2 linked regions of the Homo sapiens genome follow. The protein of the gene in region 1 purifies or fractionates together with the protein of each later gene. This does not show direct contact. Each region holds a gene or a part of one and is shown on either strand. Other genes may lie near its edges.

Evidence for each region. The genes of interacting proteins can lie anywhere in the genome.
Region 2: the proteins of TIMP3 (region 1) and FRAS1 purify together in Homo sapiens (affinity purification with mass spectrometry; one large-scale study listed by BioGRID and IntAct). This does not show direct contact.

What each region holds. Positions count from the first base shown.
Region 1 is NC_000022.11:32,804,031-32,809,122, forward strand, and holds part of TIMP3 (metalloproteinase inhibitor 3 precursor), read left to right. Parts: intron 1-5,092.
Region 2 is NC_000004.12:78,535,872-78,540,963, forward strand, and holds part of FRAS1 (extracellular matrix organizing protein FRAS1 isoform 1 precursor), read left to right. Parts: intron 1-1,123; coding exon 1,124-1,329; intron 1,330-3,422; coding exon 3,423-3,569; intron 3,570-4,659; coding exon 4,660-5,092. UniProt on the Homo sapiens protein: Involved in extracellular matrix organization. Required for the regulation of epidermal-basement membrane adhesion responsible for proper organogenesis during embryonic development. Involved in brain organization and function.

The DNA of each region.
Region 1 (5,092 bases):
CTTACAATTTCTCTGGATTGAAACAAGAAATAGCTCCCTCGCTCCTCTTCATAAATTTCTCAGAGAAAATCTAAGTTACCAGGAAGTAGCCAAAGACCAGGAGATTGTGGAATCAAAAAGAAAAAAAGAAACAAAAAATCTTCGATGCTCTGGCACGGATCCCAAATTGTTCTGCCTGGGTTTGGTGAGCTGCACTAGTGGCAGGGATGAGCTAATGCTTTTAAAATGGGAGGTGTGGGTGTGAGCTGCTTGCCTGCCGACCTCCCTCGCCTTGCACAGCACCCTGCTGGCGTCCAGTACTTGGCTCCCAAGTTTCATTGCTCAGAGCCTTTCTGGTTTCCAGTCTGGGTTGAAACTGTCTATTCTCGCCCTCAAACAAATATGAAGGAGCTCCCCATTCCTTGGGACCCACACAACCCCACCAGTCAACTTTGTAGCCCCCTAAAGGTGTTCACATCAGCCCATCAACTTCCTGTTTTAAAACCATCATGGTGGTTTTCTCTTCATGGCTTGGTGCCATGTTGGCCTAGCAAAAGGCACAGGAGGCCTGGCCTGGTCCTCTCCGGGGGGCTGCCCGATGGCCTTTCCTCCTGTCTCTGCTCATCCACAGGTGTCTCTTTTTGTCTTTTTTCCCCAAAGTCCTAGGGCCTGGCATGGCATTCTGGGGGAGGAGGAGTTAAAAGGTGTTTCTATGGCAACTCCAGGCCCTGCACCCTATGGAAGTGTTTAGGAGAAGAATAAACTACATGCCGGCTTATAAGACACACTGTGGGGGAAAGAAAGGGACTTGGCAGCAGGCAGGATGTCTGTGGTCCCCCTCCCTGGCCAGTCATTGCCCCTGAAACTCCTGACAAAACCTTGACTCTAGAAGAGGAATGGGAGGGGGCTGGAGATGAAGAAGGCGGCCTCGGCCCGGGCAAATCTGCCCTGGCAGCTCTGTCCAGCTCAGGAAGGGGTGGGCTGTGCCAAGGGCTTTCTGAAAATGTGCGTGTGTGCGTGTGTGTGTGTGTGCGCGTGTGTGGCTTCTGCAAAGGTGGCTGGCAGGGCTGAGGGGGGTTGCAGCAGAGAAAGAGAATTTTGCTTCAGAATGCCAAGCCCTTCTCTCCTTCTCTCTTGCCGCCTTTGCATGGGAGGAATGGGGCTGTAGGATGAAGTGTGTTCGGGGCCTGCCTCTGAGCCTGTTGGGAATTTGAGCATGAGGCTCAGCTGGGGGGCCGGCTGCCAGCCCCAGAGGATGGCCCCTGGATAGCTCCAAATTGTTCTGACAGGGGCCAGTGCCAGCAGATTCTTTCAGTATCAGATCTGAGGTTGTCGTTTTAGCAAAGAAGCCATTTTCAAAGAAACCAGATCCATCCCCTCTCCCTCTTACACACAATTACACCTCAACACTGGGCTTTGCAACTTAAGGAAAATAGAAAGAATCAGACTTTGGAGAGGCGCCAGCACTTGGTAGGGCAAGTCTGGGGGACCCAGGCTGTGGATGTCTTGGAACCATGGAAGGAGGAGAGCTGCTATCCAGCTGGAGGAGGGAAGAGACATGTCTTAGGCCCCTCCTGGTTGCACGCACTTCCCAAATGCCATCTCTTTCACCCCCTCCCCCGACCCCCCACAGCAACCTTAAGAGTAGGTATTGCACCCATTTTTCAGATGGAAAACACTGAGGCTGAAGAGACTGTGCTTGTCCAAGGCCACCCAGTTGCTAAATGATAAAGCTAAAACGTATTATCAGTTATACCATGCTTCAAAAACCTTTCAACTTTCATTGACACATGACATTCTAAGGTGACCAGGAGATGGAATGGATGGTTAACATTTGAAGAATGCTTTTCTTCTACATCTGGGTTTTCTTTAAAAATATGAAGATAGCCAAAATGGCCAGAGGTTTTAATTAAACATCATCTTTAGGGAGGGAGAGCTTATTATTATTCTAGTGTATCATAGAGGAAAATTCTAATGTTCTTTGGCTATTAGATCTGGAAAAGACCCTTGAAACCATCAAGCCACAGTAATAAAAGGACTTGGTTTGTCTCACTGTGGCCCAAGGAGAAGTAAGGTTAATAGAGACAAGACATTTCAGGGCTTCAAGACTCTTCCCTTAAAGGTGGGATCAGTTAGGGCTCCCCAGTGGGAGGTACCCGGTCTGCCAGTGTGGTAGGAGGAAAGCCAGGGGGAGTCAGGAGACTGGGTCCCAGCTGGAGAAGGTGCCCCTCTGACAGTTCTGTGTCCCTTTCACAGTCCCTGGATAGATAAGGCTAGAAAAGTGGCCACAGAAGTAGCTTGGGTGGAGGGATTTTTGTTTGTTTTGCATGAACAGCAGGAACCATTCAGCTCCACTGCTGAATGGCACATTCCAACAGGTTCATTAATTAAAAACAAAAACAACAACACGATTCTCCATCGCACTTGGCTTTTACCATTCCAGCCAGTATGGACAAGGAGGCCCCTTCTTCTACCTTTTGTCATAGTCTACTCCTGGGTGGCCTTGAGAGGCAGGGTGGAGTGGTGGAAAGGCAATGGGGAGGGCAGATCTGAGCTCCACTCCTTCCTCTGGGGCTTGTTGGCTGTGTGTGCCTAGGCACATATGGGCTACCTTTGAGCTTTAGTTTTCTTATTTATACAAGGGGAATAACAATTTGTACCATCTTGGCCTGTTTTATCTATATTTTAAAAGCTACAAGTATATGAATACATTCTATGTCCATGTATGTATCTCTCTGTATATCTATGATATATCCATTTCTATTTATCATTTATCATCTATCTATCTATCTCTCTATCTAAAATCGGAGAAGAGTAAAATCCTTTCTGATTACTTTTTCTAACTCTAGTCCCTTCTCCAAATCCTTTTCTTCCTATACATTTACATACATAGGTATCCATAGCAAATTTATAGTAGTTTTTCCCTTAGAAACATGAATAGTAGAACATTAAACATCATGGAATACCACATAATACCACATATAGTATTCTGCTTGTTTCCCATTCAACAATGCGTACTAGAGATCTTTCTACTTAATATATATATAAAACTGTCAGAGGAGCACCTTCTCCAGCTGGGACCCAGTCTCCTGACTGCCCCCCTGGCTTTCCTCCCACCACATTGGCAGACTGGGTAGCTCCCCCTGGGGACCCCTAACTCATCCCCACCTTTAAGGGAAGAGTCTTGGAACCTTGAAATGTCTTGTCTCTATTAACTTTACTTCTCCCTGGCCACAGTGAGACAAACCAAGTCCTTTTATTACTGTGGATTGATGGTTTGGAGGATATATATATATAAATATATAATATATAAATATATAATTTATATATAATATATAAATATATAATATATAATATATATTATATATAATATATATTATATATAATATATATATATTATATTTACATATATATTATATATATAATATATATATTTCTTTTATGTATTTCATGAGGTTATAATTTTAAACAGCTAATAAGTATAGAGTGATTACTATGTGCCAGGCATTATTCTAAGTCATTAACTTACATTAACTCATTTAATTCTCTCAGTTTTATGAGGGAGGTGTGCTATTGTCATCTCCATTTTACAGCTGAGGAAACTGAGGCTTAGAAAAATGAGGTAACTCGTTTAAGGTTATACTGCTAGCAAGGAATACAGCCTGTATTTAAGCCCCTTCACCCTGGCTCTAAAATATATTTAACAACTATACTATAGGTCACATTATACCATATCATATTATATATACTACTACATACTCTTATATTATTATAATTATATAATATGCATTTTCAATTTTAATAGTTCCTGCCAATTTGGCCTCCACAGTGGCTGTGTTAACACAGTTCTTTTCATATATGCAACATGAGGGGATGGAGGAATGTTAGAGCCCTGTGCTTAAGAGACTCCCATGCTTCTCTCAAATAGAAAAACAATTTATAATTTTTATTGACTTACTGAGTGTTTTTTTTCCTTCTTTTTGTCTCTTTGAAAGGGAGCAAAATTAGGGCCACGAAGATCAAGTTAATGGGAGTATTTTCATAGGGAGAGGAAGGCTGCAATGCCAGGAAAGCTGTGACCCTTGACTTGTTGCATGCTGGAGTAATTCGGTTGAAGATAGCTTTATGTATTTATTTTGCTTTCAGAATAAGCAGTGGACCATTTATTACACCAAGTTGTTTGACTTTGAGGACTTACATGGACTCAGGTTCAAAGGTATATGTGGCTGTGTTTTGAACACACATACACAGGGTTTTGCTTTCTGACTCAAAGCTGTCCGCTGGCCAGGCTCATGGTGGCAGCAAGGGCACTCACTCATCTGTCTCCCTTCTTGTTGCCTATGGATGGCACTTGGGTGAGAGCAGTGGGATGGTCACAAGGAGGAGGATGGACTGCCGAGAGGGAGGCTGGGTGGACCCCAGCCAAGAAGGACGCTGGGGTCTCATTATTATGGGAGCTAGAAGGCCTGGTTTAGGAAAGAATTCCTGTTCTGATGAAAGCTCTTCAGTGGACTCTTAGGATAAAGTATCATCAAATGGCTTTTACAAGGGCCAGTGTGGACCCTGCCTACCTCATCCTCATAGTCTCATCACTGGTCTGTCCTGCTCCAGCTGTTCATACTCTGTCTCTCTGGCTCTTGGCCCATGACACCCCCTCGGTTTTGAACAGTCCTCATTAACTTCTCATTCTCTAGGTCTCCTTTGGTTCCTTTCCCTGATCACTCCTTGGCATTGGTACAGACGAACAGTCATAAACCTTGCCCATATTTTAAGCATGCTGAAAAACACCATCTCTAGTAAAACCCAAATTCTCCAAAGCTGCATGGGAAACTCCCAGAGGGGATCATTCCTGCGCTGGGAGAAAGAACTTAGGGCTGCGTGCCACCCAGAGGGATAAACCTAACCCACTTTAGAGGGTAAGCACCCACTATGCTCTCTGCATTACTTGATAAGTCTAGTCCTGTCTTCTGGTGGACATGATACCCTAGCACCCTCCCAGAGAAGAAAGTGGAGATTTCTAAATGCCAACCCTGCAGGAGATCACAAACATAATACTGTAATTTTCATAGTAAGTTTGGTGCCCTTACTATGTGCCAGGCACTGTACCAAGCTC
Region 2 (5,092 bases), on another chromosome or scaffold:
CCTCTCCTGCCAGAGCTTCTACACACCCTCCACTCTTGTCACACTGACTTACTTAGCACCACATAGTAAATGTTTGGGATGAGCATTTGGAATTAGCCAGATTTGTGCTAATTCCAAAATCCTCCTCCCACTGCATCATTGCTGTGGAACCTTGGATAAGTTACTTAAAAATGGGAATAATAATTGAAGCTATCTTTTGGGCTCTTGGGAGGATTAAGTAAGTTAGTTGCATGTAAAGAGCTTGGTGCCATAGCCGACACATAGGAAACGGCCTACACCAGGGCTTACATCCTTGAAGCATTCAGTATTTTGTACATGGATTTTTTTTTTTTTTTTTTTTTGCCTAGAGTGTTCTCTCCTGCCTCTCACTCCCACCCCAAATGCACTGTCTGACAAATGCCTACTTGTGTTTCAGGATACTGCTCAAATATCATGTCTCTTGAAACCTTCCATACCATTCCCTAGGCAGATTTCTGTACCTGGTTTCATGCTCTCTTAACATGACATACCTTCCTCTATTGTGGAATGTAACAGTATAGCATTTGGGTGATTAATAAAGTATTGTGGTGGTTTGGTTTGAGAGCATAGTACCTTGACTTGGAATCCCACCCTCACCGTTTGCTTGCTTTGTGACCTTCAGCAAATCACTTAGCCCCACTCAGTGCCTCAGGTTTCTCATCTGCAAAATTGTGAGCACTCCATGAGTTATTACATGAGAGGACTTGGTACAGTACCTGGAAAATAGTATGAGTTTGATAAATATGAGCCTATTTTAGTCAATCACTGTGAGTTTGTTTCCATCCTCTCAACTGCATCTCACACACCTTGGTATCCCCTGTGCATAACAGAATACTTTGCTTCCCTTAAATGCTTAATTAATGCTTATTGAAAAAAAGAAGGCATAAATGTTCCCTAGCAAGAAAACTCAGAGAAAAAAAGAAAATAAGAATAAAAACGAAGCAATAAATGAATGAGTATTTTAGGGGCACATGGAATCATGGAGCTCTTCATAGAAAAGTGCTTTTCACTCTTAAGGGAGCATGTTTAACCCCTTTCAACCCTTGACATTTGTTTTTCTTTCATCTTAAAGTCTGACCTAATTAATACCTTTCAATCTTTTCAGGTCAAATCCTTTATGGCCGAGTACTTTGGAATCCAGAACAAAATCTTAATTCTGCTTACAAACTCCAGCTGGAGAAAGTCTATCTTTGTACGGGCAAGGATGGTTATGTGCCTTTCTTTGATCCCACGGGGACAATCTACAATGAAGGGCCCCAGTATGGATGCATTCAGCCAAACAAACACCTAAAACACAGATTCCTGCTGTTGGTATGCTAAGTTCTCACTATTAGTGTTAAAGAGCAGACACTTGAGCAGATTTCCTCAGCTATGACTTCTGCCTAAAGTAGATAGAGCTCACTCTTGATATTTTCTTCTCTATATATGTTTGTGTTGTTGTTTCTTTCAGATCAGCTAAATACTAGTACATAGGTGGTAGTTACGATGAGTAACAAGACAAACTTCCATTGATGTCCTCAGAAAAGGAAACTCTCGGCCAATGTTTCTCAGAGTATGGTTCAGAGACCTGGAGTGTCCCCATACTCTTTCAGGGAGTCTACAGAGTCAAAATTACTTTCAAAATAATATGATGATGACTCTTTTTTTCATACTTATTCCCTCATGAGTTTAGAGAGTTTAAAAAGTTTATCAATAAAATTTCAGATTCCACATTGTAATGAATCTTTAAAAAATAACCACTCACCAAGTTTTGATTTAGTATCAAAAAAGAGGCAGGGCGTGGTGGCTCATGCCTGTAATCCCAACATTTTGGGACACTGAGGTGGGAGAATCACTTAAGCTTAGGAGTTTGAGACAAGCCTGAGAAACATAAGGAGACCCCATATCTACAAAAAAATATTTGAAAATTAGCTGGGCTTGGTGGCATGCACTTGTAGTCACAGCTACTTGGGAGGCTGAGGTGAGAAAATCACTTGAGACTGGGAGGTCAAGGATGCAGTGAGCCAAGATTGCACCACTGCACTCCAGCCTGGGCAACAGAGCAAGACCCTATCTCAAAAAAAAAAAAGAAAAAAAAAAGCCATAATTGTTTGAAAAAGCTATTAACTACATAGCTTTATGAGGCCAGATTTTCTTCATACACTTTAGACAAAACAGCATATCACAACTGATGGAATTCAGAAGCAGTTATGAGAATCCAGTTTTTTCCCTGAGATTACAAAAATGTAAAACATTGCCAGCTCTCTTTATTGAGGAAGGGAATGAATTTAGGTATTTTCACTAAAAAATATCTTACTTAAGTTAACATGTAATGAGTTTCTTATTGTCAGTTTAAAATGAATTAATAAGTAAACACTTAAAATTTTTTCAGGTTTAATTTTTAACCGAGTAAATGTCGATAGATATAAGTCACATAAACAAAAACTCTCTGGGGTCCTTGATTTGTAAGTGTGTAAAGGGTCCTGAGACCAAATAACTTGAGAAGTATTGGGCTAGAATATCCCACTTTTTGCATTTTGAGATCACAAAAGCCACCACATGTCCTTTTGAAAAGGACAGTGGGTTCCCAGAGTTAGTGTATTAGTCTGTTCTCATGTTGCTAATGACATGCCTGTAACTGGGTAATTTATAAAGGAAAGAGGTTTCATTGACTTACAGTTCAGCATGGCTGGGGAGGCCTCTTACAATCATAGCAGAAGGGGAAGCAAATACATCCTTCTTCACATAGGGGCAGCAAGAAGTGCCGAGCAGAGGGGAAAAAGCCTCTTAAAAAACCATCAGAGGTCCGGGCGCGGTGGCTCAAGCCTGTAATCCCAGCACTTTGGGAGGCCGAGGTGGGCGGATCACGAGGTCAGGAGATTGAGACCATCCTAGCTAACACAGTGAAACTCTGTCTTTACTAAAAATACAAAAAAATTAGCCTGGTGTGGTGGCAGGCTCCTGTAGTCCCAGCTACTCCGGAGGCTGAGGCAGGAGAATGGCATGAACCCAGGAGGTGGAGCCAGCAGTGAGCTGAGATCGCGCCACTGCACTCCAGCCTGGGCGACAGAGCAAGACTCCATCTAAAAAAAAAAAAAAAAAAAATCAGATCTCATGAGAACCCACTCACTATCACAAGAACATCATAGAGGTAACTGTCACCGTGATTCAATTACTTCCTATTGGGTCCCTCCCATGACACATGGGGATTATGGGAACTGTAATTCAAGATAAGATTTGGTGGGGACACAGCCAAACCATATCAGGCAGCCACTGACTTATGGAGAGGGCTTCACAGCACATACTCTCTCAACTCAACCTAAAGCCAGGAGTGATGAGTACTTTTCTCCTCCCAGTCACTGCCACCTACCAATATAGTGGAACCATCTTTCTAAATCTTGCATTTCTTTTTTCTGAAATCCTAGGACCGCAATCAGCCAGAGGTAACTGATAAGTACTTCCATGATGTGCCTTTTGAGGCTCACTTTGCCTCTGAGTTGCCTGATTTCCATGTGGTCAGTAACATGCCAGGTGTGGATGGATTTACTCTAAAAGTAGATGCACTCTATAAGGTGAGTTTGGTGAGAAGAACAGAAGCTTAAGACCAAGTCTACTTTAAAGCTTGAAAAAAAAAAAAAAAAGAAGGAGGACTGCAACATCTCTGGATTCTTCAACATTCTGCCATTCTTGCTGGCAGATCTTTTCTTATTGTTAAGCTTATCACCCACCCAAAATTTTCACATGTATCCCCAGTAGACCAAAACAATTATACAATTATTGACTTTGCATATAGTCACTTGTCATTGTGCACATCATGGCTGCATATGACACTCCAGTTTTTCCTAAGTTCTTTTATATTGCATCCCTTTTTGGTTCTATGCTAGCCCAGCTGATTTTCACGGACATATGAAAAACATTTAAAAAATCATAATACAATACAGCAATTTAGAATAGCAAGAATTACTATTTGATAAACACAAATACCTTAAGTCTTAGCAATGAACATGAACTTTCAAGATGAAATTTCACTTTTTTTGTCTCTAAATATTAATCTATGACCCTTCAGAACTATTATCATGCTTCAGAAGTTATTTCGAAACCATGAAGCATTTTAATGGAGGAAGATGAGGGGGAGATAAAATACTTGATGATATAGCCTGATTGAGAAGGTGTTTAGAAAATGTTTGTCACGTATCTGTGTATTATGCACAGAGTATATGTTTAGTGAATATTTTGTTGAATGACTCCATTTTCGCTGAAGTTCACCAATAAATAGTAAATTGGCATAACACATAATTGAAGGTCACTGTAAATAAATGTGGTTTTTAATGCTATTATTTCACTGCTATCAATAAAGACAGACAAATATAAGCATTCACTTAGCTAAAGAGACCATGAAAGATAATTTCTTAGGCTATTCCATGTACACATAGGGAAACAAAAAAGAATCCGAATAGCTGACTCAAGATCATCTTAATTTGGAAATAAAATAGAACCCATATCTGGTTCAGTTCTCTATGTATTAGTAGACACCAACCATTGCTAATGCTTTTCTGGAAATCAGTTATCTATCAAGGCATATAGTGGCAATTATCCTTCCATTTCCTTTCTTCAGAGGTGGTCTGTGGGCAACAACAACATGTTCGGTTTGTCCCCCTGCAGGTGGAAGCAGGACACCAGTGGTATCTCCAGGTCATCTACATCATTGGCCCTGACACCATCTCAGGGCCCCGGGTCCAGCGCTCTCTCACAGCTCCACTCAGACGCAACCGAAGGGACCTGGTAGAGCCCGATGGCCAGCTGATCCTTGATGATTCCCTCATCTATGACAATGAAGGAGACCAAGTCAAGAATGGCACCAATATGAAGTCCCTGAATCTGGAGATGCAAGAGTTGGCGGTAGCTGCGTCCCTGTCACAGACTGGGGCGTCCATTGGCAGTGCCCTGGCTGCAATCATGCTTCTACTTCTGGTGTTTTTGGTGGCTTGTTTTATCAACAGGAAATGCCAGAAACAGAGGAAGAAGAAGCCCGCAGAGGACATTTTGGAAGAATATCCTCTGAATACCAAGGTAGAAGTGCCCAAGAGGCACCCGG